7 separate regions of the Homo sapiens genome follow, and regions 2, 3, 4, 5, 6 and 7 are each linked to region 1. The links come from fine-mapping of genetic effects on gene expression. A gene starts in region 1. Each other region holds a variant in brackets. All regions are shown on one strand. Distances are between the middles of the regions. Region 1 holds the start of PLA2G4C (phospholipase A2 group IVC). Region 2 overlaps LIG1 (DNA ligase 1). Region 3 overlaps ZSWIM9 (zinc finger SWIM-type containing 9). Region 4 has its middle 29 kb from the start of ZSWIM9. Region 5 holds the start of LOC124904734 (a long non-coding RNA gene). Region 6 overlaps PLA2G4C (phospholipase A2 group IVC). Region 7 overlaps NUCB1 (nucleobindin 1).

Evidence for each region.
Region 2: its variant is fine-mapped to the expression of PLA2G4C in whole blood (TOPMed, PIP above 0.99). The same link has a PIP of 0.9 or more in blood mononuclear cells.
Region 3: its variant is fine-mapped to the expression of PLA2G4C in whole blood (INTERVAL, PIP above 0.99).
Region 4: its variant is fine-mapped to the expression of PLA2G4C in whole blood (INTERVAL, PIP above 0.99).
Region 5: its variant is fine-mapped to the expression of PLA2G4C in whole blood (TOPMed, PIP above 0.99).
Region 6: its variant is fine-mapped to the expression of PLA2G4C in whole blood (TOPMed, PIP above 0.99).
Region 7: its variant is fine-mapped to the expression of PLA2G4C in cerebellum (GTEx, PIP above 0.99).

The regions. Positions count from the first base shown.
Region 1 is chr19:48,108,704-48,113,259 of GRCh38, reverse strand. It overlaps PLA2G4C (phospholipase A2 group IVC), which reads left to right and starts at 2,443. Exons shown (of 17, transcript NM_003706.3): 1 at 2,443-2,773. RefSeq lists an enhancer at 2,468-2,627.
Region 2 is chr19:48,138,520-48,143,075 of GRCh38, reverse strand. LIG1 (DNA ligase 1) reads left to right here. Exons shown (of 28, transcript NM_000234.3): 12 at 2,933-3,105. Among named protein-coding and RNA genes, the nearest start is that of LIG1-AS1, 5.1 kb to the left of the region's middle. The variant T/C (reference allele first, on the strand shown) is at 2,059.
Region 3 is chr19:48,184,972-48,189,527 of GRCh38, reverse strand. All of the region lies in intron 3 of ZSWIM9 (zinc finger SWIM-type containing 9), which reads right to left. Among named protein-coding and RNA genes, the nearest start is that of ZSWIM9, 17 kb to the right of the region's middle. RefSeq lists a silencer at 900-1,132 and an enhancer at 2,726-2,785. The variant A/TA (reference allele first, on the strand shown) is at 2,331.
Region 4 is chr19:48,197,727-48,202,282 of GRCh38, reverse strand. No RefSeq gene overlaps it. Among named protein-coding and RNA genes, the nearest start is that of ZSWIM9, 29 kb to the right of the region's middle. The variant T/CTTTTTT (reference allele first, on the strand shown) is at 2,787.
Region 5 is chr19:48,203,508-48,208,063 of GRCh38, reverse strand. It overlaps LOC124904734 (a long non-coding RNA gene), which reads right to left and starts at 3,903. Exons shown (of 2, transcript XR_007067282.1): 1 at 3,842-3,903; 2 at 789-879. It also overlaps a transcript of CARD8 not described here. RefSeq lists an enhancer at 3,805-3,974. The variant T/C (reference allele first, on the strand shown) is at 1,647.
Region 6 is chr19:48,077,477-48,082,032 of GRCh38, reverse strand. PLA2G4C (phospholipase A2 group IVC) reads left to right here. Exons shown (of 17, transcript NM_003706.3): 11 at 4,209-4,262. Among named protein-coding and RNA genes, the nearest start is that of PLA2G4C-AS1, 18 kb to the right of the region's middle. The variant T/C (reference allele first, on the strand shown) is at 2,374.
Region 7 is chr19:48,911,434-48,915,989 of GRCh38, reverse strand. It overlaps NUCB1 (nucleobindin 1), which reads right to left. Exons shown (of 13, transcript NM_006184.6): 6 at 2,794-2,979; 7 at 2,426-2,516. The region is part of intron 1 of NUCB1-AS1 (NUCB1 antisense RNA 1); the gene reads left to right. Among named protein-coding and RNA genes, the nearest start is that of NUCB1-AS1, 5.2 kb to the left of the region's middle. The variant G/A (reference allele first, on the strand shown) is at 1,922.

The DNA.
Region 1 (4,556 bases):
TGTGTGGGCAGACCCAGGGGACATAAGCACAGGGGCTGCTGGGGACTTCTGGAGAAACATCTTTCCTGACCAAAAAGGACAGCCCTGGTTGTGGCAGCTCCTCCCCTCCTCCTGCCTTGACTAGAGATGATGGCTGGAGCCAAGTCACCACCTTGTAATGATGAGGAAAAAGAGTAACAAACTCTCCTGACGACCCTAAACCGGCGAACCTAGGGCAGCAGCTGCCTAACTGTGGGCTTTTGTTCATGGGAGTAGGGGAAGAATAAGCCCCAGGGCGATTATGCCACTCTAAAACATGGCTTTCAGCCGGGCACAGTGGCTCATGCCTGTCATCCCAGCACTTCGGGAGGCCGAGGCGGGCAGATCACCTGAGGTCGGGAGTTCAAGACCAGCCTGACCAACATGGAGAAACCCCGTCTCCACTAAAAATACAAAATTAGCCGGGCGTAGTGGCACATGCCTGTTACTCCCAGCTACTCAGGAGGTTGAGGCAGGAGAATCGCTTGAACCCGGGAGGAGGAGGTTGCAGTGAGCCGAGATCGAGCCATTGCACTCCAGCCTGGGCAACAAGAGCAAAACTCCGTCTCAAAAAAAAAAAAAAAAAAAAAAAAGACTTGTTTCTCATAGCTAAGAGTTCCTGATACAGCTCTGCCTTAAAGAACTGGCAAATTAGTGTGCATTTGTGTTTCAATTTCAAATAAAATGTTTAAGGCAAAAAAAAAAAGTAAATGTTGTATGTCAGGGGATCCCCACATTACTGGCTTTGTGTGGAGACCATGGTTCCTTTGGGCTTGGCTCTTCCTCCCTGCACCAGTGCAGGGCCCCAGGAACACATCTGCCACACACGGCCGCCATGTCCCTCTGCTGAAGCTAGTCAGGGTCATCCTCACTCCTCAGTGACCCTCATGATGGCTCCACCAGGTAGGTACTTTTATTCTCCCCATTTAACAGGTGAGGACACTGAGGGGCACAGGGATGTAAGTTACCTTCCCTAGGTCCACTATCTAGGAAGTGGTGGGCCAGGGTTTGGTCCATGCTGTCAGCTCCTTGACCCTGCATCTATAACTACTAACTATACTGTGGAGAGCCTCATGAGCTCCTGCGAGGTGTAGAACCTTATCCCGCAGGCGGGGCAGTGGCATGGTCAGGTCTAGGAGTGAAAAGATCCTGCGATGGTTGGAGTTGCGGGCACTGAAGAGGTGAGCCTGGCGTTAGGGGGAGCAGGGGAGACCATCTTCCCCCTGGTGAAATCCTGTTCTAAAATTGGTGATACTCCTGCCTTGGCCTCCCAAAGTGCTAGGATTATGGCCTCATATCTATTTTTAAAAAATAAGAATTCAAGCTGGGTGCGGTGGCTCGCAACTGTAATCCCAGCACTTTGGGAAGCCGAGGCAGGTGGATCACTTGAGTTCAGCAGTTCGAGCCAGCCTGGCCAACATGGTGAAACCCTGTCTCTACTAAAAATACAAAAATAATTAGCCGGGCGTGGTGGCAGATGCCTATGTTCCCAGCTACTCGGGAGGCTGAGGTAGGAGAATCGCTTGAACCCAGGAGACGGAGGTTGCAGTGAGCCGAGATTGCACCACTGCACACCAGCCTGGGCGACAAAGAGTAAGACTCCATCTCAAAAAAAAAAAAAAAAAATTCAAAACCCATCGAGTTGGGATGACGCTTAGTGCTGGGCTTCAGGAAGAGTAGGCAGGAGGGTAGTATGGGAGGTTTCTAGGAGCCACTCTTGGAAGCGGTGCTCCCCACAGATGCCCGATTGCACTGACTGGAACTCGGTCACATGACCACATAACTCGCTCACATGACCACACCTAGCTGCAAAGGTGCTGGGAAATGTGGTACCCTGTTGGGAGGCCACTTCTGGGCTTCAAACCTTCACTGTGAATGGAGCTCACAGGTTTTCTAAAAATGGACATTAAATGAACCAGAGTTGGCCCTAAGGATCTGGCTCACTGCAACCTCCACCTCCCAGGATGAAGCACCTGCCTCAGCCTCCCGAGTAGTAGCTGGGATTACAGGCACACGCCACCATACCGAGCTAATTTTTGTATTTTTAGTAGAGAAGGTGTTTCACCATGTTGGCCAGGCTGGTCTCGAACTCCTGACTTCACATGATCCGCCTGCCTCAGCCTCCCAAAGTGCTAGGATTACAGGCGTAAGCCACCACGCCTGGCCTCAATATTTCTTTTTCTGGGTATTTGAGTATGATATTATATATGATGGTTATTAGACAGCCAGATGCATAGGAGGATTAGCTAATCTGTTTTGAGGAATACTTATCTCCAATATAGTTATATAACGACAACATTCTTTTTTTGAATACTGGTCTCGGGTGCCTAATGACAGAAGGGTGACATCACTAAGGAAGCCTGGAAAGTCCCAGCCCTCCACGTGATCCCACGGATGAAAATAGCTCCGGGTGAGCTCTGGAACAGCTGAAAAAGCTGGAGCAACCAAGCAGGGCCTACAAGCCGAGGAGGGCTGTTTAAAGGCGCAGGGGCCATTTTACCTCCAGGTTGGCCCTGCTCAGGACCAGGAGGAAACACCTCCAGCCCGCGACCTCCTCCCACAGGGGGAAAAGGAAAGCAGGAGGACCACAGAAGCTTTGGCACCGAGGATCCCCGCAGTCTTCACCCGCGGAGATTCCGGCTGAAGGAGCTGTCCAGCGACTACACCGCTAAGCGCAGGGAGCCCAAGCCTCCGCACCGGATTCCGGAGCACAAGCTCCACCGCGCATGCGCACACGCCCCAGACCCAGGCTCAGGCAAGCCGTGGGGGCAGGGAGGGCTGTTTCATCCCGCTGGGGCGGCCATAACCAAGTACCAGGGATTGGGTGCAATTAAATAACAGGATTTCTTTTTCTTTTTTATTTTATTTTATTTTATTTATTTATTTATTTTTTTTTGAGACAGCATCTCGCTCTGTCGCCTAGGCTGGAGTGCAGTGACGCGATCTCGGCTCACGGCAAGCTCCGCCTCCGGGGTTCAAGCGATTCTCCTGCCTCAACCTCCCGAGTAGCTGGGATTACAGGCGCACACCACCACACCCGGCTAATTTTTGTATTTTTAGTAGAGATGGGGTTTCACCATGTTGGCCAGGCTGGTCTCAAACTCCTGAACTCGTGATCCACCCCACTCGGCCTTCCAAAGTGCTGGGATTACAGGCGTGAGCCACCGCGCCCGGCTAGGAATTTATTTTCTAACACTTCTGGAAGCTAGAAGTCCAAGATCAAGGTGTTGGCAGGGTTGGTTTCTCCTGAAGCCTCTTGCAGAGGCCCTAATCTCTCCTTATAAAACCAATCAGGCTGGGCGCGGTGGCTCACGCCTGTAATCCCAGCCCTTTGGGAAGACGAGGCGGGCGGATCCTGAGGTCAGGAGATCGAGATCATCCTGGCTAACACAGTGAAACCCCGTCTCAACTAAAAATACAAAAAATTAGCTGGGCGTGGTGGCGGGCGCCTGTAGTCCCAGCTACTCCGGAGGCTGAGGCAGGAGAATGGCGTGAGCCCGGAAGGCGGAGCTTGCAGTGAGCCGAGACTGCGCCACTGCACTCCAGCCTAGGGCACAAAGCGAGACTCCATCTCAAAAAAAAATAAAATAAAATAAACCAATCAAACCAAATTCCAGGCCACCCTCAGGACCCCACTTTAACTTAGTCACCCCTTTAAGAGCCTATGTCTGGCCGAGTGCGATGACTCATGCCTATAATCCCAGCGTTTTGGGAAGCCAAGGTGGAAAGCTCTCTTGAGCCTAGGAGTTCAAGACCAGCCTGGGTGACATAACAAGACCTGATCTCTACAAAACATAAAAAATTTAGCTGGAGATGGTAGCATGTACCTGCACTTCCAGCTACTCGGGAGGCTGAGGTGAGAGGCTCGCTTGAGCCCAGGAGGCTGAGGCTGCAGTGAGCCACGATCACACCACTGCACTCCAGCCTGGGTGACAAAGCAAGACCCTGTCTCAAAAAGCAAACAACGAAAAAGAATCCTATGTCCAAATACAGTCACATTCTGAGGTTCTGGGGGTTACAAGTCCAACATATGAATTTGGAGGTGGTGGGGGGAAGCTGATTAATTTCATAAGGGGGGTCTTGAAACTGCCTTCGCAGAAATGTAAGTAATGAGAGAAAGCTAACATGACTGACCATCTTGTTTCTAACCTCACAGGCTAGATTTTTTTTTCTTATTCTAGTGCAGAGGCCAAAATTACCATGAGAGGAATTTAATTCATAGTTAAACTTTGAGACAAAGAAAACTGACCCCCAGTCCTTGTTGAGAGATTGAAGCCACATTCATTTACTTTTTATTTATTTATTTAGTTTTGAGACAGAGTTTCACTCTTGTTGCCCAGACTGGAGTGCAATGGCATGATCTCTGCTCACTGGCACCTCCACCTCCTGAGTTCAAGTGATTCTCCTCCCTCAGCCTCCTGAGTAGCTGGGATTACAGGCGCCCGCCATCATGCCCAGGTGACTTTTGTACTTTTAGTAGAGATAAGGTTTCACCATGTTGGCCAGGCTGGTCTCCAACTCCTGACCTCAAGTGATCC
Region 2 (4,556 bases), 30 kb before region 1:
CCTTCTCAGCAGCATGTTAGCATCGCTGGTCCCTGCCAGCCCCCTTCTCTGTCCCCATTTCCTCTTCTCTCCTTGTCCTCCTCACCCCCAGCACTCGCCCCTGTGTATTTAGTTTATATAAATATTATCATGGAGGCTGGGTGCAGTGGCTCATGCCTTAATTCCAGCACATCGGGAGGCCAAGGTGGGTGGATCACCTGAGGTCAGGAGTTCAAGACCAGCCTGGCCAACATGGTGAAACCCCATCTCTACTAAAAACACAAAATTAGCCCAGCATGGTGGCGGGTGCCTGTAATCCCGGCTACTCAGGAGGCTGAGGTACGAGAATCACTTGAACCCAGGAGGCAGAGATTGCAGTGAGCCGAGATCACGCTATTACACTCCAGCCTGGGTGACAGAGTGAGACTCTGTCTCAAAAACAAACAAACAAAATTATCATGGGTACGGCTCATTCTGCTTGCCTTCACTATCAAACCCGTTTCCACATGTGTCCATGTTGGTTGAGTGGTTCGAGCCTGTTGTGACTGCTCTGTAGTGTCCCTTCGTTCTCACATGGCACATGCCATTTCTCAGTTCCCCAACATGAGTGGAGCATTTCAGGCTGTTCCCAGCACTCTGTTTTTTTTTTTTTTTGAGATGGAGTCTTGCTCTGTTGCCCAGGCTGGAGTGCAGTGGCGCAATCTCGGCTCACTTGCAGCTCCGCCTCCCAGGTTCACACCATTCTCCTGCCTCAGCCTCCCGAGTAGCTGGGACTACAGGCACCTGCCACCATGCCCAACTAATTTTTTGTGTGTGTGTTTTTAGTAGAGATGGGGTTTCACTGTGTTAGCCAGGAAGATCTTGATCTCCTGACCTCGTGATCCGCCCACCTCCGCCTCCCAAAGTGCTGGGATTACAGGTGTGAGCCACCGCGCCCGGCCCTAATTTTGTATTTGTAATAGAGATGGGGTTTCACTATGTTGGCCAGGCTGGTCTTGAACTCCTGACCTCAAGTGATCGGCCCGCCTCGGCCTCCCAAAATGCTGGGATTACAGGCCTGAGCCACCACACCCGGCCCTCTTCTGTATTTTGTAAGGATGCTTTTTGGATTCAGAGCCTACCTTCATTCACTATGCTCTCATCTTAATCTACAGGTACATCCGCAAAGACCTTCTTTCCAAATGAGGTCATGTTGTGAGGCTCTGAGTGGACCTGAATTTTGGGGGGGCTGTTCCATCCACTGCACCATCCAATGGTGGCTTTTGCCTACAATGATTACTGAGGGATTTCCCTGATGTTGGTTTTTGTATTTCTTCTCTGCACCTTAAAAACCTCGGTAATGAGACTTCTGTAGGAAAAACCCAGCTTCTGTTTCTAATGAGGCCCCCTAAGTTTTTCAGTAACAAAGCCATTCTTTCCAGCTTTGAAGTTTTAGACAGAAACACGGTTTTCGTTTTAGAGGTGGTGCAGCTTGGTGGCTGGGAGCACAGTCCTCAGGCACACGGCCTTGGTGTACATCTCAGCTTCATACTTACTCGCTCTGTGACCTTGGGCAAGCCACGGACTCTTTCGGTGCCTCTGTTTCTTTATCCGTAAAATGGAAATAATAATGGTACCTACCTCAGAGGGGAGCTGTGAAGATTCTATGAGTTAAAAGGTGCAAAGGGCTGGCCGTGTTGGCTCACGCCTGTAATCCCAGCACTTTGGGAGGCCGAGGCGGGCGGATCATTTGAGGTCAGGAGTTCGAGACCAGCCTGACCAACACGTTGAAACCCCGTCTCTACTAAAAATTAAAAAAAATTAGCCGGGCATGGTGGTGCGCACCGGTAGTCCCGGCTACTCCGGAGGAGAATCACCTGAACCCACAAGGTGGAGGTTGCAGCGAGCCGAGATCGTGCCACTGCACTCTACCTTGGGCGATGGAGCGAGACTCCGTCTCAAAAAAAAGGTGCAAAGTGCTCAAAGCCAGCTCCTGAATTTAGAAAATGCTCCGTAGCATCAGCTGTCGTTTCTCTGGGCTGATCATCACCATCTTCATCATTGTTACCGTCACACCAAGTTACTCCCCCACTGTAACCG[T/C]CCGGTGGGTTCACCTTGCCCGCTGCCTAGACAGAGCCGATTTATCTAGACGGGGGAACTGCAGTGGAGAAAGAGTCATTCCCGCAGAGCTGGCTGTGCGGGAGACCGGAGTTTCATTTTTACTCAAATCAGTCTCCCTGAGCATGTGGGGAGCAGAGTTTTTAAAGATAATTTGGCGTGTAGGGGCTTGGTAAGTGGGGAGTGCTGATTGGTCAGGTTGAAGATGGACTCACAGGGGGTCGAAGGGAGGTTTTCTTGCTGTCTTCTGTTCCTGGGTGGGATGGCAGAACTTGTTGAGCCAGATTACAGTCTGGGTGGCGTCAGACTGAGTGCAGGGTCTGCAAACTATCTTAAGCACTCATCTTAGGTTTTACAGTAGTGATGTTATCCCCAGGAGCAATCGGGGAAGCCAGAGGCTGCGTGACCCCTAAACCTAAATTTCTAATCTTGTAGCTAATTTGTGAGTCTTGCGAAGGCAGGTCCTTAGGCAAAAAGGGGTCTTTTCCAGAAAGGGCTATTACCAATTTCGTTTCAGAGTCAAGCCACGAACCAAATTCCTTCCCAAAGTTAGTTCTGCCTATGCCCAGGACTGAACAAGGACAGCTTAAAGGTTAGAAGCAAGATGGAATCGGTTAGGTGTGATTTCTTTCCACTGTCATAATTTCCTCAGTTACGGTTTTGCAAAGGCGGTTTCACCTCCAGCAATCTGTGATTGTCCTCATGGCTCCAGGCCCCAGAGCCTGGGACTGTTCTGAGCCCTTTCCTCTTCTTTCTCCATTTCTTTCTAGTGTCCACCCCCTTAAACCCACCCCACCCCGACACCACACTTTGACCTTGAGGAACCACGTGTTCATACCCCCGTCCCCTCCTCCAGGCTCCGGATGGTGGAGACGCTGAGCAACTTGCTGCGCTCCGTGGTGGCCCTGTCGCCTCCAGACCTCCTCCCTGTCCTCTACCTCAGCCTCAACCACCTTGGGCCACCCCAGCAGGGCCTGGAGCTTGGCGTGGGTGATGGTGTCCTTCTCAAGGCAGTGGCCCAGGCCACAGGTAAGGGGGACTGTGGTTGGAGGGACCAGAAGGACAGGAGCTCAGCCAGAGAAAATGCAGAGGTCAGGTGGATCGGAGAGATGGTGGAGAGAGGCTGTGAAACAGGGTTGAGGAGAAGGCTGAGAGGGAGGAGAGCCTGATGGGGACAGATTTGCAGGGGTGTGGGAGAGAACACAGGGGCAGCAGTTCAGGTGAGGGAGGACCAGGCATGTGCTGGGACAGGGGGTGTGGGGTGCAGGGAAGGGGAGGGCTGGGGAAAGATGCTGGAGGCAGAGACAGCAGGATTTGGGGGCTGAGATGGAAGGTTGGGGCTTAGAGAGGTCTGAAAGGACTTTGACTGGAGGGATTGGAAGGAGTGGGAGGAAAGAACATGGTGTGTGGGGGGCCAGCAGCCTGAAGGGGCCCAGCCGCCAGTGCTGGGTGGAAAGGCTGGTGATGCGGATGGCCCGCCTGCCAAGGGCCTGGAGTGCTCGGTGCTTATCATGAGGACACTGGGGAGCCATGGAAGGATTGTGAGCAGGCAAGGGGCAGCATCCAGGGGGAAGAGGAGCTGGACCCCAGCTGTAGAGAAGAGAGAAGAGGGCAGGAGAGATCTGGCAGACAGTGGATGTCAGGGTGAGGAGGCAGGAGGAATGCCTCCAGGATCTCCCTGGGTGACTGGATGGATGACAAAGCCGTCGGCAGCTTGGGACCCTGGTGAGGGGCAGGCACCTGCAGGGGGCATTAATCACCCCAGCGTGGGGCAGGCATGAGCAACCTCTATCTGTGGGCCCCCAGGGCCATCCAGGAAGTTTGGAAACGGGTCTGAGGCTCACCAGGTCTGGCTCAGAGCCCAGGGTTCGGGCTGGTCAGTGTAGGAGGGATGACCACCCACTGGTGGGTTCTCATCCGCCTGGGGAGAGGATGTGCTGGGAGCACTGGAGCTGGCTTAGGGCCATGGGCACCAACATTTAGGGAAGGCAGGGGTTTCAGGCTTTCATGAGAGGACAGAGGGACTGAGAAAGGTTGACTTGGATCAGGAAAGAGTTACGGGCTTATGGGAGCCAGAGGAGATGAGACTCAAGATTTTCTCACTCATTCACTCAAGATGTGTTTCGGGAGCACTGACGTCATACCAGACCCAGCACACACGGGGTCGGTTAAGAATACTCTGAGCTGCAGGTAACAGAAAACCCAACTACATTGGCTTGGACAAAGAAGGATCTGTTTTTCTCACAAAAGAAGTTGCAGATGCTGGCTTTCCTGCCCAACAATCCATGGCAGCTGGGGCCTCTTCCACTGTCTCATGCCTCCACCCTTGATGGGTCGTGTTCACACTCACACTGCTCTCCGTGCCGCCTTGTGGCCCCCGTGGCTGTCCAAGTCCCGGGTTTGTTGTGAGTTGTTGGCCACTTTGGAGAATCCCGTCCCCTTTGATGTGTGATTCGATAACATCCCATTGGTGAGGCTCA
Region 3 (4,556 bases), 76 kb before region 1:
AGCACGATCTTGGCTCGCTGCAAGCTACGCCTCCTGAGTTCACACCATTCTCCTGCCTCAGCCTCCCGAGTAGCTGGGACTACAGGTGCCTGCCACCATGCCTGGCTAATTTTTTGTATTTTTAGTAGTGACAGGGTTTCACCATGTGAGCCAGGATGGTCTTGATCTCCTGACCTTGTGATCTGCCCGCCTCGGCTTCCCAAAGTTCTCATTCTTTTTTAGTGCTGTGTAGTAATCCATGGATGGATATACCACAAGTTATGTAACCATTACCCGTTGGTGGAGTCTGGGTTGTTTCTAATCTGCTGCTTTCACAAACAACAATGATTAACCTTGTAAGTAAGTCCTTCCACAGCTGTGCAACTACATCTGCAGGATAAATCACCAGTAGTGGGATTGTGAGCCTAAGGGTGAGTGTTCTTGTCATTTTGATAGATATTGCTAAATTGCCCTCCACTGAGATCATACCAGCTTCCCATGGAGTATTCTTTTTTTTTGAGATGGAGTCTCGCTCTGTCACCCAGGCTGGAGTACAGTGGTGTGAGCTCAGCTCACTGCAAGCTCCGCCTTCCGGGTTCACGCCATTCTCCTGCCTCAGCCTCCCAAGTAGCTGGGACTACAGGCGCCTGCCACCACACCTGGCTAATTTTTTGTATTTTTAGTAGAGACGGGGTTTCACCATGTTAGCCAGGCTGGTCTCGATCTCCTGACCTCGTGATCCACCCGCCTCAGCCTCCCAAAGTGCTGGGCTTACAGGTGTGAGCCATCACGCCTGGCCCCATTGAGTATTCTTAAAAGGGATACACTTGCATCAATGCTCGCCATTCTCAGAAGGCAAAGCATACACGTAAGAGAACGCTGCAACGTTTCCGGGCAAGGTCTCTCTTTTCAGGGCTTGCTTGCTGGTTACCCTGGTGCCTGCCACAAGTGAGGGAATGGAGATGTGACTGGACCCCAAAGCCCATCATCATCAGGCAGGGCAGGTGATAAAAGGTGTTAAAGGTTGGGTGCGGTGGCTCACGCCTGTAATCCCAGCACTTTGGGAGGCCGAGGCAGGCAGATCACCAGGCCAGGAGATCGAGACCATTCTGGCCAACATGATGAAACCCCATCTCTACTAAAACACACACACACAAAATTAGCCAGGCCTGGTGGCGCACGCCTGTAGTCCCAGCTACTCAAGAGGCTGAGGCACAAGAATCACCTGAACCTGGGAGATGGAGGTCGTGCTGAGCCAAGATTGCGCCACTGCACTCCAGCCTGGGAGACAGAGCGAGACTCCATCTCAAAAAAAAAAAAAGGTATTAACACCTCCCTGGGTGAAGTCGCCCCCCAGTCTTGCCCTTAAATCATGCCTTGTGGCTTTGGGCGCATCCTTCTTGTCTGATCCCCTCCAAAGATCAAGAGAGCAACCCAACTCAGGAAGTGCAGGCACTTTTTACAAATAATCCTTCCTTTGGAAGACTGCTGGGAAGTGGAAAGACTGATTGTTGCTTGACCTAGGCTTGGGATGAAAATTTAAAGCTTGCTGTCTGTCTGTCTATCTATCTATCTATCTATCTATCTATCTATCTATCTATCTATCTATTTAAAGGGTCTCACTCTGTTGTCAAGGCTGGAGTACAGTGGTGTGATCATAGCTTACTGCAGCCTGAAGCTCCTGGGCTCAAGCAACCCTCGTGCCTCAGCCTCTTGAGTAGCTGGGACTACAGATGCATGCCACCATGCCTAATTTTTTTTTTTTTAATTTTTTGTAGAGACAGGTGCTCGTTATGTTGGCCAGGCTGGTCTTGAACTCCTGGGCTCAAGTGATCCTCTCGCTTCGGCCTCCCAAAGTGCTGAGATTACAGGTGTGAGCCATCGCACCTATTATATTATCAATATTACATGTTATGCGTTACATATTATAATATTAATATAATATATAATATTATATTATATAATATATAATATATATAATATTATATATAATATATATAATATAATATAATAATAATATAATATATAATATATATAATATAATATAATATATTATAATATAATATATAATATATATAATATATATAATTAATATATAATATATAATATATATAATATAATATAATATATAATTATAATATATAATTAATATAATATATTAATTATTACATTATACTGTTATATTACTACTGTATTATTAACATAATAATATAGAACTCTTTCATTAGATTTTATAAGTGAAAAAAAGGTGAAATTTCTGTGTAAAAGTGATGGATTGAACACCTCTCTAGTTTCACTCTCTCTTGAACCTCAATTACATCTTTTTTTTAAAATGGCTTTTTTTTTTTTTT[A/TA]AATCAGAGGCAATATGATAGGGACAGAACTTTGGAAACTGGAAAGCAGCTGGACATGCTAATCCCACCCCACCCCTAAAAACCCATGAATCCTAAGCCAGCAATTGAGGGATGCTGAGAACCGGTAGCAAAGTCCTCAAAAGGAGCTGGCAACACCAGGCCAGTTTTGCAGAAGGCAAAATAAAGACGAACTGAGGGCTGTTTCAGCAGCAGCTAGACCTCCAAATCTCGTTTCCCCTCTCCCCTTACTCTTCCCCCACCCCCAGTGACTGGGGGTTTATTCTGTAGACAGGGTGAAACAGAAAGGGGCCGCTGGCTTTGGGGACATCTGGCCCATCTGAAGATGAGGGAGGGGGATTCTGAACCCCAAGTGGGTACTGAGTGCGTCTTGCTGGCTGAATGCCTGACAGCTCCCTGCCTCTGCCCCTGCAGCTCCCAGAAGCTGGCAGCCTGGCCCTGGCAGCCTGGCCTTCACCCCCCGCCAGGAGGCCAGAGGAGTTTTCTCAGGGGGATTTGACCAGCCCCAGAGGAAGAACGAAAGATGGTGACATCTGGCACTCCCCAACGTATAAAGCAAGATGCAAAACAGCATGTACAGGCCGGGTGTGGTGGCCCCGACCTGTAATCCCAGCACTTCAGGAGGCCAAGGTGAGTGGATCACTTGAGGTCAGGAGTTTGAGACCAGCTTGGCCAACATGGTGAAACCTCGTCTCTACTAAAAATACAAAAATTAGCCAGGCATGGTGGTGCATGCCTATAGTCCCAGTTACTCAGGAGGCTGAGGCAGGAGAATCACTTGAGCCCAGGAGGTGGAGGTTATAGTGAGCCAACAGCGTGCCACTGCACTCCAGCCTGGGTGACAGGAGTGAAACCCTGTCTCAAAGAACAAACAAACAAACAAACAAAAACAGCGTGTACACTAGGCTGCCCTGCTTGCTGGGGGTGGGGGGTGGCGGGGCAGAAAGAGGAAATAAAGTTAAAAATTAAAGTTAAACATACAGACATGCAAATTGACCTGTATATGTGCAGAGCTGCGCTGTCCAATCCAGAAGCCACTAGCTACATTAGGTTGTTTACATTTCGATAAATTAAATGACAAATTCAGTTCCTCAGTCATACTGGCCTCATTAAGCATTCTGTAGCCATGTGTGGCCAGTGGCCTCTGGATTGGACAGTACAGATAAGAACCATTTTCTTTCTTTTTATTTTTTTAGACAAGAGTGTCACTCTGTTACCTAGGCCAGAGTACAGTGGCATAATCTCAGCTCACTGCAACCTCTGCCTCCTGGGTTCAAGCGATTCTTGTGCCTCAGCCTCCCGAGTAGCTGAGATTACAGGCACCTGCCACCATGCCTGGCTAATTTTGAATTTTTAGTAGAGATCAGGTTTTGCCATGTTGGCCATGCTGGTCTCGAACTCCTGCCATCAGGTGATCCATCTGCCTCAGAGTCCCAAAGTGCTGGGATTACAGGTGTGAGTAACCATGCCTAGCCTGGATAAGGAACATTTCTATCATTGTAGAAAGTTCCACCGGGCAGTGCTGGTCCATAGGATAGAAAGCGAGATATGATTTATAAGCTGCTAATAACTCTGCAGGGGAGGGGACCTGGGGGACAGGATGTGATAAGACTTTTCACCACATACCTTTTTTAGAACCATGTGAATGTATGACATATTCAAAAAGTAAATATTTAAATGTTGCTTCACTAATCTGTCTCTCCTGTCCTAGAACTTCTTCCTCCTTTCTTTCAAGAGCATTAAGGGGCTGGGCACGGTGGCTCATGCCTGTAATCCCAGCACTTTGGGAGGCCAAGGCGGGGGGATCACCTGAGGTCAGGAGTTCAAGACCAGCCTGACCAACATGGAGAAACCCCGTCTCTTCTAAAAACACAAAAATTAGCATGGTGGCGCATGCCTGTAATCCCAGCTACTCAGGAGGCTGAGGCAGGAGAATCGTTTGAACCCGGGAGGCGGAGGTTGCGGTGAGCCAAGATTCCGCCATTGCACTCCAGCCTGGGTGACAAGAGCGAAACTCCGTCTCAAAAAAAAAAAAAAAAAAAGTATGAAAGCAGGTCAAAACACAGACGCAGGAGCCAACCGTGGTTTAGCCGAGATTCCAAGACAGCCTTCAAAATGAAAAGACAACTCCCCTTCCAGGGAAGGCTCTGATCTATGAATGAGCTGTTCTGCACAGGGACAATCCTGCAGAGGGTGGGTTCAGGGAAG
Region 4 (4,556 bases), 89 kb before region 1:
GGTCACATACGTCTCTTCCTGGTCTGGACTCATCCAATCCATTTGTCACAGTAAAGCTTCTGGGGTAGGGGAGGTGGTTATTCTAATGTACATCCAATCAAGCCACTCTCTGTTTAAAACCTTTTGAAGGCTTCCCATACCTCCCAGGATAAAGACTCACCTCATCTTCTATCTTTAAGGGCTTGCGGATTTCACTGTCCAAATCTCTCCCTCTTTCACACTCTGACCCATCTACACTGGCCCATCTTCTCTTTACCTTATGGGCTGAGCTCTTTTCCACCCCAGGGTTCTGTGTGTTATTTGGTGAATCAATTAATGAATTAATTCAGCTTCCCGTCACTAACCAGATAGCCCACATCTAAGAATCTAATGATAAAACAGGCAAGTGGAGAAGTTTTGGATTTGGTTTGCGCTCAATAGCTGTTGTTTGCCTTCCCAGGATCCCTCCTGCCTCCTTTCCTTTCTCTCTTTCTTTTTTTTTTTTTATTTTTTATTTTAAGAGATGGGCATCTCCGGGCGCAGTGGCTCACGCCTGTAATCCCAGCACTTTGGGAGGCCGAGGTGGGCGAATCATGAGGTCAGGAGATCGAGACCATCCTGGCTAACACGGTGAAACCCCGTCTCTACTAAAAAATAGAAAAAATTAGCCGGGTGTGGTGCCGGCCACCTGTAGTCCCAGCTACTCGGGAGGCTGAGGCAGGAGAATGGCGTGAACCCGGGAGGCAGAGCTTGCAGAGAGCCGAGATCGTGCTGCTGCATTCCAGCCTGGGCGACAGAGCGAGACTCCATCTCAAAAAAAAAAAAGAGATGGGCATCACGGGTGTGACTAGCTGGGGCCAGTATCATGGGAGGTAAAGGCATTTATCAAGACAGTCGTAGGGAAAGAAAGGCAGATTTATTAGACAGATAGTACATTGCAAGAAAGCAATGGGCAGCACAGCAGACGAAGAGCTGTCTGCAAAGGCAGGGGCTGCAGGGAAGTTTCATAGGGTTGTACTGGAGGGGTCTACGTGCTGAACGAGTTACCCTAGTCCTCCCGGCCAAGGCATTTTTTGAGACAGAGTCTCACTCTGTCACCCAGGCTGGAGTGCAGTGGAACAATCATGGCTCACTGCAGCTTCGACCTCCCAGGCTCAGGAGATCCTCCCACCTTAGCCTCTTGAGTAGCTGAGATCACAGACGTGCACCATCATACCAGGCTAATTTTGTTTCTATTTTTGTAGAAACGGGGTCTTCCTATGTTGCCCAGGTTCGTCTTGAACTCCTGGGCTCAAGCGGTCCTCCCACTTTGGCCCCCCAAAGTGCTGGGATTTCAGACATGAGCCACCAAGCCCTGCCAAGGCCTTTTTAGTTCACCCAAAAGCCAGATGACTCCCGATATGTGGGCAAGCCCAACGAAGATCAGCTACTTTATCAAGATTAGCTGCTTTCATTTTTTTTAAATAAGCCTATTTCCGATAATTGTAGGTTTATGATCAGTTGCTTTGCTTTTCAAAGTATAACATGCATACTAGGATCTTGTTAGAATGAGATTCTGATTCTGTAGTTTTGGAATGGGTTTGAGAATCTGCATTTCTTTCTTTTTTCTTTCTTTCTTTTTCTTGAGATGGAGTTTTACTTTGTCGCACAGGCTGGAGTGCAGTGGAGCGATCTCGGCTCACTGCAACCTCCGCCTCCTGGGTTCAAGAGATTCTCCTGCCTCAGCCTCCCGAGTAGCTGGGACTACAGGTGCGCCACCACGCCCAGCTAATTTTTGTATTTTTAGTAGAGGCAGGGTTTCACCATGTTGGCCAGCATGGTCTCGATCTCCTGACCTCAGGTGATCCGCCCACCTCAGCCTCCCAAAGTGCTGGGATTACAGGTGTGAGCCACCGTGCCCAGCCGAGAATCTGCATTTCTAACAAGCTCCTAGGGAATGTTCATGACACTGTTGCATGCACCACACTGAAAAGCAAGGGTCTAGCCAACCCCTCAGGTGACCCAAGACTCATAAGCAATACGTGTTCATTTTTATTATTGTTTTAACTTTTAAAGTCAGGGGTACATGTGCAGGTTTGTTGTATAGGTAAACTTTTATCATGGGGGTTTGTTGTACAGATTATTTTGTCACCCAGGTATTAAGCCTAGTACCCATTAGTTATTTTTCCCGATCCTCTCCCTCCTCCCATCCTCCACCCCCTAGTAGGTCTCCATGTGTGTTGCCCCTCTCTCTGTGTCATTTCTTCTCATCATTTAGCTCCCACTTATAAGTGAGAGCATGCAGTATTTGGTTTTCTGTTCCTGTGTTAGTTCATTAAGGATAATGACCTCCAGCTCCATCCATGTCCCTGCAAAGAACATGATCTAGTTGTTTAATGGCTCTATAGTATTCCATGGTGTATATGTACCATATTTTCTTTATCTAGCTTATGATTATTGATGGGCATTTAGGTTGATTCCAAATACATGTTTATTGTTATATACTTAGGAAGTTTTATAGTTGTTAACACAGCATTTATGTAGCCATGGATAACTGATAACCTCCATAAATCCAACCTGCTGCTTCCTTGAGACTTAATATACGAATGCTGATAGAATGGTATTTTTGGATCAAGATAGGAGGGTGTGATATGGGAACTTCTAGTCCCCCCCTTTCTCAGGAGAGAGCTGTCTTTTGAAGAAATCCATCGCACGAAAAGCAGGCGAGAGAGGGGAAACCTGACATTGTTTGAGCCCCTGCAGTCAGCTGCCATCAAAGCCTTTGACTTCGCATGACTTGAACCACTGAATCATTTTTTTTCTTTTTT[T/CTTTTTT]TTTTTTTTGACAGAGTCTCGCTCTGTCACCCAGGCTGGAGTGCAGTGGCACGATCTTGGCTCACTGCAACCTGCGCCTCTTGGGTTCAAGCAATTCTCATGCTTCAGCCTCCCAAGTAGCTGGGACTACAGGCACCCGCCACCACATCTGGCTAATTTTTGTATTTTTAGTAGAGACAGGATTTTGCCTTGCTGGCCAGGCTGGTCTTGAACTCCTGGCCTTAAGTGATCCACCTACCTCAGCCTCCCAAAGTGCTGGAATTACAGGTGTGAGCCACCACACCCGGCCTGAATTGTCTTTTATCTCAAGTTCCTTCATTGCTACTCAAAGTGTGCTCCACAACCCAGCACAGCCACATCATCGGAGAGCTTGCTAGAATGTTGGGCCCTATCTTAGACCTACTGAGTCAGACTCTGTATTTTAAGAAGGTGCCCACGTGACTCACGTCCACGCTAAAGTTTGAAAAATGCTGAGCTACTTCAACCTGGACTTTGTCACCTATAATAGAATTAAATCCCCTTCATCAGTTGCGACAACAGAAACCCCAACTCAAACTTCCCTAAATCATTAGGGTATCTTTGATTGGCCAGGTGCAATGGCCCACATCTGTAATTCTAGCACTTTGGGAGGCTGAAGCAGGGGCATCGCTTGAGGCCAGGAGTTTGAGAACAGCCCAAGTAACGTAGCAAGAGACCTCATCTTTACAAAAAGTTAAAAAAAAGAAAAGAAAAGAAAAGAAAAAGAAATTAGCTAGGTGGTAGCACGAGCCTATAGTCCTAGCTACTCAGGAGGCTGAGCTGGAGGATCCCTTGGGCCCAAGAGCTGGAAGGCTGCAGTGAGCTATGTTTGCACCACTGCACTCCAGCCTGGGCCAGAGCGAGACACTGTCTCTAACAAAAAAGGATATATTTTACTTAAGAAGCCCCATGGTAGAGCAGACTCGAGAGACTCAACTGAGCCAAGCAAAGATCCAGATTTTCTTCATCTCAGCTCTGTCATCCTCAGTGTGGACTTCATTATCACACCATACCAAGGTAATCATCAGCAGGTCTAGGCCTGATCATGTCTCTAGGCCTTCTTAGGAGTGATAGAATCTTTATTAGAAGCCTCCTAGGCCGGGCGCAGTGGCTTACGCTTGTGATCCCAGCACTTTAGGAGGCTGAGGCGAGCAGGTCACCTGAGGTCAGGAGTTTGAGACCAGCCTGGCCAACATGGTGAAACCCCGTCTCTACTAAAAATACAAAAATTTGCCAGGTGTGATGGCGCACACCTGTAATCCCAGCTACTCAGGTGACTGAGGTATGAAAATCACTTGAACCTGGGAGGTGGAGGTTGCAGTGAGCCGGGAACGTGCCATTGCATTCCAGCCTGGGTAACAGAGCAAGACTCAAAAAAAAAAAAAAAAAAGCTTCCTAGTTCTGAGCACAGTGGCTCACACCTGTAATCCCAGCACTTTGGGAGGCTGTGGCAGGAGGATTGCTTAAGCCGAGGAGTCCAAGACCAGCCTGAGTAACATAGCAAGACCCTGTTTCTACAAAAATATAAAAATAAAAAAGCCTCCCACCTCAACCTGAGCAGACTCGTTGACCAGGACTGGGTCACAGGCCCATTCTGTGGCCAGGACATTTGGCATGAGTCAGTCATTTGAAGGTAGAATCGACTCATGTCAAGAAGTTGCCACTGGGACGCACTGGTCCAGATGATGGAGGAGGAAGCTTGAGTTGCTATGGAGATGAATTCATTGTGGCTCCTCTATCCATCTGGCCCCA
Region 5 (4,556 bases), 95 kb before region 1:
ATTTGAGGATGCTAAATTAAAAATAGAAGGCCGGATGCAGTGGCTCACGCCTGTAATCCCAACACTTTGGGAGGCCGAGGTGGGTGAATCAGATGAGGCCAGGAGCTCGAGACCAGCCTGGCCAACATGGTGAAACCCCGTCTCTACTAAAATTACAAAAATTAGCCGGGCATGGTGGTGCATGTCTGTAATCCCAGCTGCTCGGGAGGCTAAGGCATGAGAATCACTTGAGCCTGGGAGGCAGGGGTTGCAGTGAGCCAAGATCACACCACTGCACTCCAGCCTGGCTGACAGAGTCTCATTCTGTCTCAAAAAAAAAAAAAAAAAAACAGAAAAACAACAATAAAAAAGAAGAAGTTCATTAGAATGAAGCTACTAAGAAGAAGATGTAAATATCAGGTGATATTTATAATACATAAAAATGATTCAACATGAGTAAACAAACAGAAAACTCCTTGTGAAAAATGGGCAAACGTTATGAGTAAAATGTTACAGTTTGTAAATCGCAATGGACAATGAACAAAAGTAGAATTTCATACGTCTAGTTATCAGAAACCTCATTAAAAGCCATAAAAATACTACATTTTATATTCATCAAACTTCCATTTATTAAGAAGTCAGTAATGCCTACTACTGGTGAGTATATGGAGCACAAATGTAAGTTCTGCTGTTGGTTAGGTAATGCTTGATTTTGGAAATTAATCTGAAGTTACACAGTGAAGTTAAAGGTATGTATACTACCTTATCCTGCTCAGGTTGCCATAACAAAATACCATGGACTCAGTGGCTTAAAGAGTAAAATTTTATTTCTTACAGTTCTCAGGCTGGGAAGTCCTAGATAAATATTTGGCCAATTCAGCATGGTTTTTTTTTTCTTTTCTTTTCTTTTTTTTTTTTTGAGACAGAGTCTCTCTGTCGCCCAGGTTGGAGTGCAGTGGCGTGATCTCGGCCCACTGCAACCTCCGCCTCCCGGGTTCAAGTGATTCTCCTGCCTCAGCCTCCTGAGTAGCTGGGATTACAGGTGCCCACCACCACGCCCAGCTAATTTTTGTATTTTTAGTAGAACAGAGAGGAGAAGGTTAGGGGTGAGTCAGAGGAAGTACGAGAGCAATCGCTAAGAGATAAGGTCGAACTTTAGGAGCCAGGAAAGCCTCCACACTTGTCACCCCACACATCAGGGCTGTCCAACAGAACTTTCTGCAGTGATGGTGTTACCCTATGGAAGGTCCTGACTGTGAGTTGTTAGGGTTCTTGGTGTGTGGAACAAAGAATTGAACAAAATGCACAAACAAAGCAACAAAAGAGCGGAGTAACGAAAGCACAGATTTATGGAAGTGAAAGTACACTCCAGAGTCGGAGTGGGCTTGAGCAAGTAGCTCAAGAGCCCCTGACTGCAGTGCTCTTTAGAGTTTTCATTAAGCTAAAAGAATTTGGTAACACCCCTAGGTGCCCTTTAGAGGCCTCCAGTTGGTTACACCCTATGAAGGATTGGCCCGTGACCAATCAAGAGGCTGAAGTGGAGACTTCTGTCTTGTTATCACAGGAGTGAGGATGTGGCCTGGATGCTGCCCAATCTTGCCTAGAACTGGCTGCACCTGCTTGTGCCTTAACCCTTGGTTACCCTAAATCCCTGTTATCCAGACTCA[T/C]TGGGACTGCTCTAGATCTTCACTATCCAATACGGTAGGCGCTTCCTGAAATGTGCTGAGTTTTATTTCATTATAATTAATGTAATGCACCCACATGTGGCTAGCTGCTACTGTTCTATTGAAATGCAACTATACAACTTCCCATAATGTTTCAAAACACCAAACTCTTCTGTAACTCCCCCAGTCTCCCAAAACATCTTATAAAAATCCTAGAACAACTGGCTGGGGGCGATGGCTCACGGCTGTAATCCCAGCACTCTGGGAGGCTGAGGCGGGTGGATCACTTGAGGTTAGGAGTTCGAGACCAGCCTGGCCAACGTGGTGAAACCTCGTCTCTACTGAAAATACAAAAATTAGCCAGGCATGGTGGCGCACACCCGTAATCCCAGCTACTTGGGAGGCTGAGGCAGGAGAATTGCTTGAACTCAGAAGGTGGAGGTTGCAGTGAGCCAAAATTGCACCACTGCACTCCAGCCTGGGTGACAGAGTGAGACTCTGTCTCAAAAAATAAAAATAAAAATCCTATAACAACTGCACAATGCTCAAACGGCCCAATTCCCTACCTTTCCTTTTATACCTTACTACTACTCTCTTGTTGCTCCCATCATGCCTCACTCCCTACTCACATTTCCCAGACGGAGGTTACATGTGATATGGCAGCTGAGAGCCCAGACTCTGGGGCCCGATTGTGTGGGTCCAAATTCTGGTTCTAACACCTCTGGCCAAGTTATTTAACCTCTCTGTGGTGCAGTTTCCTCATCTGTAAAATGGGGGTGTGACAGTAACGCTACCTCATAGGAATGTTGGGATGCCTCAACAGCACTCATGTAAAGCAGAGATGGGTACAAGTAGCTTTATTATATATTATCTGTTTAACAATTGTATATGGGCCAGGCGCAGTGGCTCACGCCTATAATCCCAGCACTTTGGGAGACTGAGGTGGGTGAATCTCTTGAGGTCAGGAGTTCAAGACCAGCCTGGCCAACATGGTGAAACCCCTTCTCTACTAAAATTACAAAAATTAGCCGGGCGTGGTGGTGCGCACCTGTAATCCCAGCTACTCGGGAGGCTGAGGCAGGAGAATCGCTTGAACCCGGGAAGCAGAGGTTGAAATGAGCAGAGATCATGCCACTGCACTCCAGCCTGGGCGACAGCGTAAGACTCCATCTCAAAAACAAGCAAACAATTGTATATGGCCGAAACTTTCCATAATAAAACGTTTTTAAAAATAAGAGTACTTAGCATAGTCTCTGGCACACAGTCAGTGCTGATCTTGGCGTTAGCTTCAACACTCCGACTTTTCCTGACTATCCCCAGCTCCTCCTACAACCCAATTACTCTATAATACCTGTTTCCCCTATAATAACCCACTCTTCACAAACACTTAAATTAACCATAATGAGAGCTGCCAAATAAAATACAGGATGCCCAGCTAAATTTGAATTTCAGATAAACAACAGAGAGTAACTACAATATTATGCATTTTCCGAAATTAGAATTTAACTGGCCATTGCTTTCCCCCTAAATCTGGTAACTCTATCACTAAATGCCTTTGCATACTGAGGAATCCTCAGTGCTTCCTAGAGGCTGCTACTGAGTTGGCCTTCTATAAATAACAACAGAATTAACTTATATAATACCTCAATTCCCTTATAAAACTTCCAGCTTCTCTTTACAGCGCCAGTTCTTCCCAATCGCCTCCCAGTCCCTCCCATAGAGGACAACAGTCCCCTTTTCTTATACCTCCCCTTCTCCATGAAACCCCAATTCCGTCTATAGTCACATCTGTCCTGTTTACCAGTACTGTCAACTGTGCCTGGCTTCCAGCAGGAGCTCTATAATAACTGCAGAATGGCAAAAGAGCTTAATACCCCAATTTTCCCTACTGCTTTGGGAGGCTGAGGCGGGCGGATCCTACTGCGTTTCCACTTCCCCTTGAGCATCCCAAGTATCTAGTAACTTGTCGATTTCAATGATCTCCCCAAATCTCCTTATTACATAGGAATTCACCAAAACACTCCCTGTCCTTGAAAACATCCCATTTCCCCTAATATCACCCCAACTCCCCTTACTGCAGACTGATTCCTCCGGCACACCCTCCATCCCTCCAGTTCCCAGGCTGTTAGTCTAATTTCTCCCGCGAGGTCTCTAATCCCCGTCTCCTTCCACTCCAGGGTTACTGTGGCAACGCCAACCTTTGAATCCCCCTCCTGCGCGCTGAGCGGCTCGTAACCATGGAGACCGAAGCAGGTTTCCCGCGTCCGCCTCCTCACCCAGAGACTGCAGCCCCGGCGCCCAGACCCTTTGGACAAGGAGATCCAAGCGGGCCCCACAATGCTCAGCGGGTAAAGAGCTCCTCCCCACTCCTCTCCCGCCAGCAGACGAAGGAAACACCCCGCAGCCTGCACATGCTCAGATGGAGCTCTGGGCCCGCGGGTTCTACTGCGCAGGCCCTCACACTCAGCAAAGGGACTTGGACGCGAAAGCGCTGGTGGCGCTCAGCCGGCTGGGAGTTGTAGCTTTCTGGCTGCTACAGCAGGAGATACAGGTGGCCAATGGGTGAGCTGGCTGGAGGTAGGAACAAGGTTAAGGAAGCTGGGATCTTCGTGCAGACTGGATCGTCACTATAGCAACAATGAAACATCGGGAAGGGCTAGTTCTGCTAGGCAGTCTGCCATTTTCATTCTTTCATCTTTTTTTTTAACTCAAAGCTTACTTTGCAACAGGCACTGTTCTAGGCACTGGGGATACAATGGAAAACAAAATAGAGCTTCTATTTTGGCGGGAGATCGACTTAATAACTGTGAACACGTGTCACTGGAAAAAGCAGTATGTTAATAAGTAACTGGGCTGCTTTGGGAAAAATGGAAATGCAGGCGATGTTAGAACACTGGTACACACACTAATTCA
Region 6 (4,556 bases), 31 kb after region 1:
CTCGTCTCACTGCAACCTCTGTATCCTGGGTTCAAGTGCTTCTCCTGCCTCAGCCTCCCTAGTAGGTGGAATTACAGGCACGTACCACCATGCCCGGCTAATTTTTATATTTTTAGTAGAGATGAGGTTTTGCCATGTTGGTCAGGCTGGTCTCGAACTTCTGAGCTCAAGCAATCTGCCCGCCTCAGCCTCCCAAAGTGCTGGGATTACAGGCATGAGCCACCACACCTGGCCCCAATGTGTAGTGTTTTTTTGTTTTTGTTCTTGTTTTTTGAGACGGAATTTCACTCTTGTTGCCCAGGCTGGAGTGCAATGGAGCGATCTCTGCTCACCGCAACCTCCACCTCCTGGGTTCAAGCCATTCTCCTGCCTCAACCTCCCGAGTAGCTGGGATTACAGGCATGCACCACCATGCCTGGCTAATTTTGTATTTTTTTAGTACAGACAGGGTTTCTCCATGTTGCTCAGACTGGTCTCGAACTCCTGACCTCAGGTGATCCACCTGCCTCGGCCTCCCAAAGTGCCGGGATTACAGGCATGACCCACCACTCCTGGCCCCAATGTGTAGTTTTTTATCCCCACCTCCCTACCCTCCTCTTTCTGAATCTCTGAAGTCCGTTATGCCACTCTGTATGCCTTTGCGTACCCATAGCTTAGCTCCCACTTATAAGTGAGAACATATGGTTTTTGGTTTTACATTCCTGAGTTACTTTACTTAGAATGATGGCCTCCATCCAAGTTTCTGCAAAAGACATTATTTTATTCTTTTTTATGGCTGAGTCATATTCCATGGTGTTTATATACCACATATTCTGTATCCACTCATTTGTCAATGGGCACTTAGGTGGGTTCATATCTTTTTTTTTTTTTGAGACAGTCTCACTCTGTCACCCAAGCTGGAGTGCAGTGGCGCGATCTCGGCTCACCGCAAGCTCCGCCTCCCAGGTTCACGCCATTCTCCTGGCCCAGCCTCCTGAGTAGCTGGGACTACAGGCACCCACCACTGCGCCCAGCTAATTTTTTTTTTTTTTTTTTTTTTGTATTTTTAGTAGAGACCGGTGTTAGCCAGGATAGTCTCGATCTCCTGACCTCATGATCCACCCGCCTCAGCCTCCCAAAGTGCTGGGATTACAGGCATGAGCCACCATGCTCGGCTGGTTCCATATCTTTCAATTGTGAATTGTGCTGCTATAAACATACATGTGCATGTGTCTTTTTTTTTTTTTTTTGAGGCAGAGTCTCGCTCTGTTGCCCAGGCTGGAATGCAGTGGTGCAATCTCACTGCAACCTCCAACTCGTGGGTTCAAGTGATTCTCCTGCCTCAGCCTCCCAAGTAGCTGGGACTACAGATGTGCACCACCGCATCCAGCTAATTTTTGTATTTTTAGTAGAGATGGGGTTTCACCATGTTGGCCAGGCTGGTCTTGAACGCCTGACCTCGAGTGATCTCCCCTCCTCAGCCTCCCAAAGTGTTGGGATTACAGGCGTGAGCCACTGCACCCAGCCCACAAGTGTCTTTTTCATATAATGGCTGCCTTTCCTTTGGGTAGATACCCAGTAGTGGGATTGCTGGATCGAACGGTAGATCTACTTTTAGTTCTCTGAGGACTCTCCATACTGTTTTCCATAGAGGTTGTACTAATTTACATTCCCACCAGCAGTGTGTGAGTGTTCCATTTGCACCGCATCCACACCAACGTCTATGGTTTTTTTTGAATTTTTATCAATGGCCATTCTTGTGGGAGTAAGATGGTATCTCATTGTGGCTTTCATTTGCGTTTCTTTAATGATTAGTGATGCTGACCATTTTTTTCATATGTTTCTTGGCCACTGGAATATCTTCTTTTGAGAAATGTCTATTCATATCATTGGGATGCTTTTCGGTGGGATTATTCGTTTTCTTGCTGATTTCTTTGAGTTCCTTATAGGTTCTGTATAATCGTCTTTTGTGGATGCCTAGTTTGCAAATATTTGCTCGCATTCAGTGGGTTGTGTGTTTACTCTGATAATTACTTCCTTTGCTGTACAGAAGCTTTTTAATTTACTCAGGTCCCATATATTTGTTTATTTTTGAGACGGAGTCTCACTCCATCACCCAGGCTTCAGTGCAGCAGCACGATCTCGGCTCACTGCAATCTCCGCCTCCCAGACTCAAGCAATTCTCCTGCCTCAGCCTCCTGAGTAGCTGGGATTACAGGCATCCAACACCATACCTGGCCAATTTTTGTATTTTTAATAGAGATGGGGTTTCGTCATGTTGGTCTGGAACTCCTGACCTGAAGATCCGCCCAGCTGGGCCTCCCAGAGTGCCAGGATTACAGGCGTGAGCCATCGTTCCCATATATCCATATGTTTATTTTTGTTTTTGTTGCA[T/C]TTGCTTTTGGGCTCTTGGTCATGAACTCGTTGCCTAAGCCAACATCTAGAAGAGTTTTTTTGATGTTATCTTCTAGAATTTTTATGGTTTCTGGTCTTATATTTAAGTCTTTGATGCAAATTCACATTGAATTTGTGAGTTGATTTTTGTATAAGGTGAGAAATAAGGATCGAGTTTCATTCTCCTACATGTGGCTTGCCAGTTATCCCAGCACCATTTGTTGAATAAGGTGTCCTTTCCCCCACTTTATGTTTTTGTTTGCTTTGTCGAAGATCACTTGGCTATAAGTATTTGGCTTTATTTCTGGGCTCTCTATTCTGTTCCATTGTTCTACATGCCTAATTTTATACCAGTACCGTGCTGTTTTGGTAACTATAGGCTTGTAGTATAATTTGATTGGGTAATGTGATGCCTCCAGATTTGTTCTTTTTGCTTAGTCTTTGCTTTGGCTATGAGGGCTCTTTTTTGGTTCATATGGATTTTGGGATTGTGGCTGGGCATGGTAGCTCACGTCTGTAATCCCAGCACTTTGGGAGGCCAAGGCGGGTGGATCACCTGAGGTCAGGAGTTTGAGACCAGCCTGGCCAACATGGCGAAACCCCATCTCTACTACAAATACAAAAATTAGCCAGGCATGGTGCATGCGCCTGTAATCCCAGCTACTTGGGAGGCTGAGACAGGAGAATCGCTTGAACTTGGGAAGCAGAGGTTGCAGTGAGCCAAAATTGGCCATTGCACTCCAGCCTGGGCAACAGAGCGAGACTAAGTCTCAAAAAAAAAAAAAAAAGGATTTTAGGATTTTTTGTTCTGTGAAAAATGATAGTATTTTGATGGGAATTACACTGGACTTGTAGATTGCTTTTGGCAGTATGGTCATTTTCACAATATTGATTCTACCCATCCATGAGCATGGGATGTGTTTCCATTTGTTTGTGTCATCTATGATTTCTTTCAGCAGTGTTTTGTAGTTTTCCTTGTAGCAGTCTTTCACCTCCTTGGTTAGGTATATTCCTGAGTATTTTATTTTATTTTTTTGCAGCTGTTGTAAAAGGGGTTGAGTTCTTGATTTGAATCTCAGCTTGGTCATTGTTGGTGTATAGCAGTGCTACTGTTTGTGTACATTGATTTTGTATCCTGAAACTCTACTGAATTCATTCATCAGACCTAGGAGCTTTTTGGATGAGTCTTTAGGGTTTTCTAGGTGTACAATCATATCATCAGTGAACACTAACAGTTTGACTTCCTCTTTACTGGTTTGGATACCCTTCATTTCTTTCTCTTGTCTGATGGCTGTGGCTAGGACTTCCAGTACTATGTTGAATACAAGTGATAAGAGTGGGCATTCTTGTCTTATTGCAGTTCTCAGGGGGAATGCTTTAAACTTTTCCCTGTTCAGTGTAATGTTGGCTGTGGGTTTGTCATAGATGGCTTTTATTACATTGAAGTATGTCTCTTGTATACCGATTTTGTTGAGGGCTTTAATCATAAAGGGATGTGGGATTTTGTGAAATGCTTCTGCATCTCCTATGATTTTTGTTTTTAATTCTGTTTCTGTGATATATCACATTTGTTGACTTGCATATGTTAAGCCATCCCTGCATTCCTAGTATGAAACCCACTTGATCACATCATGGCAAATTTCAAGCTACCAACATGAGGTCAGCGAGCACAGAGTTGGAAGACGGGTACAAAATTAGCTCTCCAGAACCCGTATCAACAGACTCCAACCCATGGCTGCCATTTCTATTAAAGAGACGTCGCTGCAGGTAATCTGTATTTTCTATAACTAGTGACTTTACAGTTAAACATTCCCCCTGCCTCTGCTCTTTTGCAGCCCGATTACTGAGGCTGCAAGAAAGTTCACAAGGGGAACATCCTCCCCCAGAAGGTAAGCATCCTACTTTGCCATGAATCCCTAATGATAGTGTGGACTGCACACTGGCTTGAAGCCAGCCATTGTCCTAAAAACTTTACGTGTCTGATTCATGTGGTGCTCCTTTGGGAATGGAGAGGAGCATGGACTCTCCCAGGTGCCTGAGGCCACGCAGCCAGGAGGGGCAGGATCGGAGTTCAAACTGACACTCTGTGAAAAATGATAGTATTTTGATAGGAATTACACTGGACTTGTAGATTGCTTTTGGCAGTATGGTCATTTTCACAATATTGATTCTACCCATCCATG
Region 7 (4,556 bases), 800 kb before region 1:
TATACTTAATACTATTGAACTGTACAATTAAACATCTTTAAAGCTGGGCGCAGTGGCACACACCTGCAGTCTCAGCTACTCAGGTGACTGAGGCAGGAGGATTGTTTGAGGCCTGGAGTTTGACTCCAGCCTGGGCAACATAGCAAGATCCTGTCTCAAAAAAAAAACAAAACAAAACACGGGGGGTGGTGCCCGGTGGGATGGCTCATGCTTGTAACCCCAGCACTTCGGGAGGCCAAGATAGGTGGATCGCTTGAGCAAAGGAGTTTGAGACCAGCCTGGGCAACATGGTAAAACCTTGCCTTTACTAAAAATTAAAAAAATTAGCCAGGCATAGTGGTACGTGCCTGTGGTCCCAGATACTTGGGAGGCTGAGGGGGAGGATCACTTGAACCTGGGTGGTCAAGGCTGCGAGGTAGTACACGTCACTACCTGAGACCCCATTACAGAATCTTCTAATTCTTTTTTACTTTCTATTGCTTTTTGAGACAGAGTCTCACTCTGTTGCCCAGGCTGGAGTGCAGTGGTGTGATCTCAGCTCATTGCAACCCCCGCCTTCCGCCTCCCGGGTTCAAGCGATTCTCCTACCTCAGCCTCCTGAGTAGCTGGGACTATAGGTGAGCACTACCATGCCTGGCTAATTTTTGTTTTGTTTTTTAATTTTTGTATTTTTAGTAGAGACTGGGTTTTGCCATGTTGGCCAGGCTGGTCTCCAACTCCTGGCCTCAAGGGACCCACCCGCCTAGGCCTCCCAAAGTGTTGGGATTACAGGCGTGAGCCACCACACCCGGCCTAGAACCTTCGTTGATTCTGAGATGCACTTTTGTGTTCTTCTATTTTATCACCCCTGAAATAGGGATGTATCTTTATTTATTTAACTTTTAATTTTTATTTTTTTCTTTGTTTTTTTGAGATGGAGTGTTGCTCTGTCACCCAGGCTGCAGTGCAATGGCACGATCTTGGCTCACTGCAAACTCTGCCTCCCGGGTTCAAGTGATTCTCCCACCTCAGCCTCCTGAGTAGCTGGGATTACAGGCACTCACGATCATGCCCAGCTAATTTTGGTATTTTTGTGGAGATGGGGTTTCACCATGTTGGCCAGGCTGGTCTTGAACTCCTGACCTCAGGTGATCCTCCCACCTCAACCTCCCAAAATGCTGGGATTATAGGCGTGAGCCACCACGCCTGGTCTATTTTTTTTTTTTAAATAGAGACAGGGTCTCACTTTGTTGTCCAGGCTGGTCTTAAATTCCTGGGCTCAAGCCATCTTCCACCTTGGCCTACCAAAGTGCTGGGATTACAGACATGAGCCACTACACCCAGCCCAGGACGCATCTTGTTTTCAATGGTACGTTAATTTAATTGGCAGCTTACGTAAAATGCTAGCACCTCTCATACTGTACAGTCTCGTGGAGTTACTAAAGTATGGTATGATCTGTGTGCCTGATCACTGGCTCTGAGGGGGAGGTACTTTGTTTTGTTTACAGTTGTATCCACGGGGTCTTGACAAAGCTTGGTCCTTAGAGGGAACTTAGGAAAGGTTTGCTGAATGAATGAGTCAGGCCTTGCTAAGCTTATCTGACCGGCTACAGATTCTGGGACAGGGTGCTTGGCATACCTGAGGGGGCTTGGCAACCCCAGGCCACATTTCCAGACAGGAAGAGACAGACTGAGGGGAGTGTGCCTTTGATCCACCATAGAGAAAGGGCTTTCGAGGCCGGGCGCAGTGACTCACGCCTGTAATCCTAGCACTTTGGGATGCTGAGGGGGCAGATCACACGAGGTTGGGAGTTCGAGACCAGCCTGGCCAACATGGTGAAACCCCATCTCTACTAAAAATACAAAAGTTAGCCGGGCATGGTGGTGCATGCCTGTAATCCCAGCTACTCGGGAGGCTGAGGCAGGAGAATCACTTGAACCC[G/A]GGAGGCGGAGGGCAGGGGGTTGCAGTGAGCCGAGGTCATGCCACTGCACTCCAGCCTGGGCAACAGAGCAAGACTCCATCTCAAAAAAAAAAAAAAAAAGGAAAAAGAAAAAGAGAAAGGGTTTTCCAGGCTTCTGGAGGCCTGGTTCTTAGGGAACAACCCACTCCTAGCGACAGGGTTCCCAGAGTGGACCAGGGCTTCTCCTGGGCTGCTGTGGGCAGAGGGCCCAGGCCTAGCCAAGCCTGGTTTGCTTACAGAGGACACCAGCTGTCCTTAGAACCCCGAGGTCTGGTGTTTGCTAGAAAAGAGGCCCAACCCTTCCATGCAGATCCTAGCCTTGTAGTCGGGAGAGGCAGGGCTGTCTGGTCAACCAGGGGACATAGGCTTGGCTCTTGGGCCTGACTAAGCCCTCCTGGGACAGACACACCCCTCTTAGCATTCAGGTCCTAGAAGGGTCAGAATCTAGGGTTCATCCTGGCTCTGGAACTCCCTCCCCACCTTACCATGCAGTATGAAGAAGGTCTTGGGGTTAAACCTGTTGGGGTCCAGTCCATCCAGCTCCTCCCACACCTCCTTCAACTGGGCTTGGCTGCCCTGTGGAGGGGAGAGCCAGGAGCTCATGAGCAAGAAGTCTGGATGCCATGGGATAAAACCAAATATCCCTTTACCCTCATCCAACAAACATCATCTCCCTCAAGCAAGAAAACTAAGAAAACTACAACTCCCAGCAGACCCTGGGGCAGCCAGGTACAGTAACAGGGAGTTTTTTTGCCTCAAGGGCCCCTGGGAATTGTAGTTCTTTAACTGCTTTCTTGTCTTGCGTTTGAACTGGATGTGGTAGGGAGTGGATGGGCACAAATGGGGTCCTCACAGGCACGTTGACTTTAGGGTGCTCGCGGTGCCGGCGCTGTTGCTCTTCCAGCTTCCTCTCCGCCTCCTTTCTCTGCTCCTCTCCCAGTGACTCCAGATAACGCCGTCTCTCGTGTTCCTTAAGCATCTCGTAGCGCTTGAACTCTTCATGATGGGCTGCGTCGTACTGGGCAAGGTCCCGGGTGGCCTGGGGAAAGGCACAGGGTCATTCCCCTCTGCCCCCTCTGCCCAGCCCCCAATTCCAGCCTGTAAATGGCAGGCCCTTGGCCCTGAACCTGGCTGAGGGCAGCCCCAGCCTCTACCTGTCTTTCTTACGTCTCGTGTCCTAATGTCCCTTTTTTTTTTTTTTTTTTTGAGAGGGAGTCTTGCTCTGTTGCCCAGGCTGGAGTGCGGTGGCACAATCTCTGCTCACTGCCTCACTTCAACCTCTGTCTTCCGGGTTCAAGTGATTCTCCTGCCTCGGCCTTTCGAGTAGCTGGGATTATAGGCATGTGTCACCAGGCCCAGCTGATTTTTGTATTTTTAGTAGAAACGAGGTTTCACCATGTTGGCCAGGCTGGTCTCAAACTCCTGACCTCAGGTGATCCGCCCACGTCAGCCTCCCAAAGTGCTGGGATTATAGGCGTGAGCCATCGCGCACAGCCTGATGTCGCCCTTTTTGGTTTCCATGACTGCTCCTGCCCCATAACACACTTTCTTCTCTTTATTCAAAACAGATTGGGACGGTTATACAATAGCAACTTCAACCCACCTCTTTCAAGTCCTCCACAATCTCCAGATCTTGGAGGAATAAGTAAATAGGAACAACATATGTGGTGAACTTAGTATTTATGTATTTCAGGTACAGCTAGGTGGCCAAGAACATAAGGTCAGACTAGGAGAGGTGGGTCACGCCTGGAATCCTAGCACTTTGGGAGGCTAGGGTGGGAGGATCACTCGAGCCCGGGAGTTCAAGACTAACTCACATAACACAGCGAGACCTTGTGTCTACTAAAAATTTTTAAAATTAGCCTGGTGCGGTGGCTTGCACCTCTGGTCCCAGCTACTCAGGAGGGTCAGGTGGGAGGATTGCTTGAGCCCAGGAGGTTGAGGCTGCAGTGAGCTGTGATCATGCCACTGCACTCCAGCCTGGGCATCAGAGCAAGACGCTGTCTCAGGTAAAAAAAAAAAAAAAAAAAGTAAAAATAAACCAAAAAAAGAACAAGAGGTTTCTAACTATTTTGCCCAGCGTTCAAATCTAGGCTTTGCTTTGTGACCAAATCTCATAAGCTCTGTGACACTGGGCAAGTTACTCAGCCTCTTTGTGCCTCAGTTTCCACCTCTGTAAAATGGAGTTAACAATACCAGGTTGAACAGTATACTCCCCCCACACTCCCAAATTCATGTCCACCTGGAATCTCAGAATGTGATCTTATTTGGAAATAGAGTGTTTGCAGATGTAATTAGTTAAGATGATGGCCTGCTAGATTACGGTGGGTATCACTATAAGAAGAGCTGGGTGCGGTGGCTGACACTTGTAATCCCAGCACTTTGGGAGGCTGAGGCGGGTGGATCACCTGAGGTCAGGAGTTCGAGACCAGCCTGGCCAACATGGTGAAACCCTGTCTCTACTAAAAATACAAAAATTTTCTGGGCGTGACGGCAGGCACCTGTAATCCTAGCTACTCGGGAGGCTGAGGCAGGAGAATCGCTTGAACCCGGGAGGCGGAGGTTGCAGTGAGCCGAGATTGTGCCATTGCACTCCAGCCTGGGGGAAAACAGCGA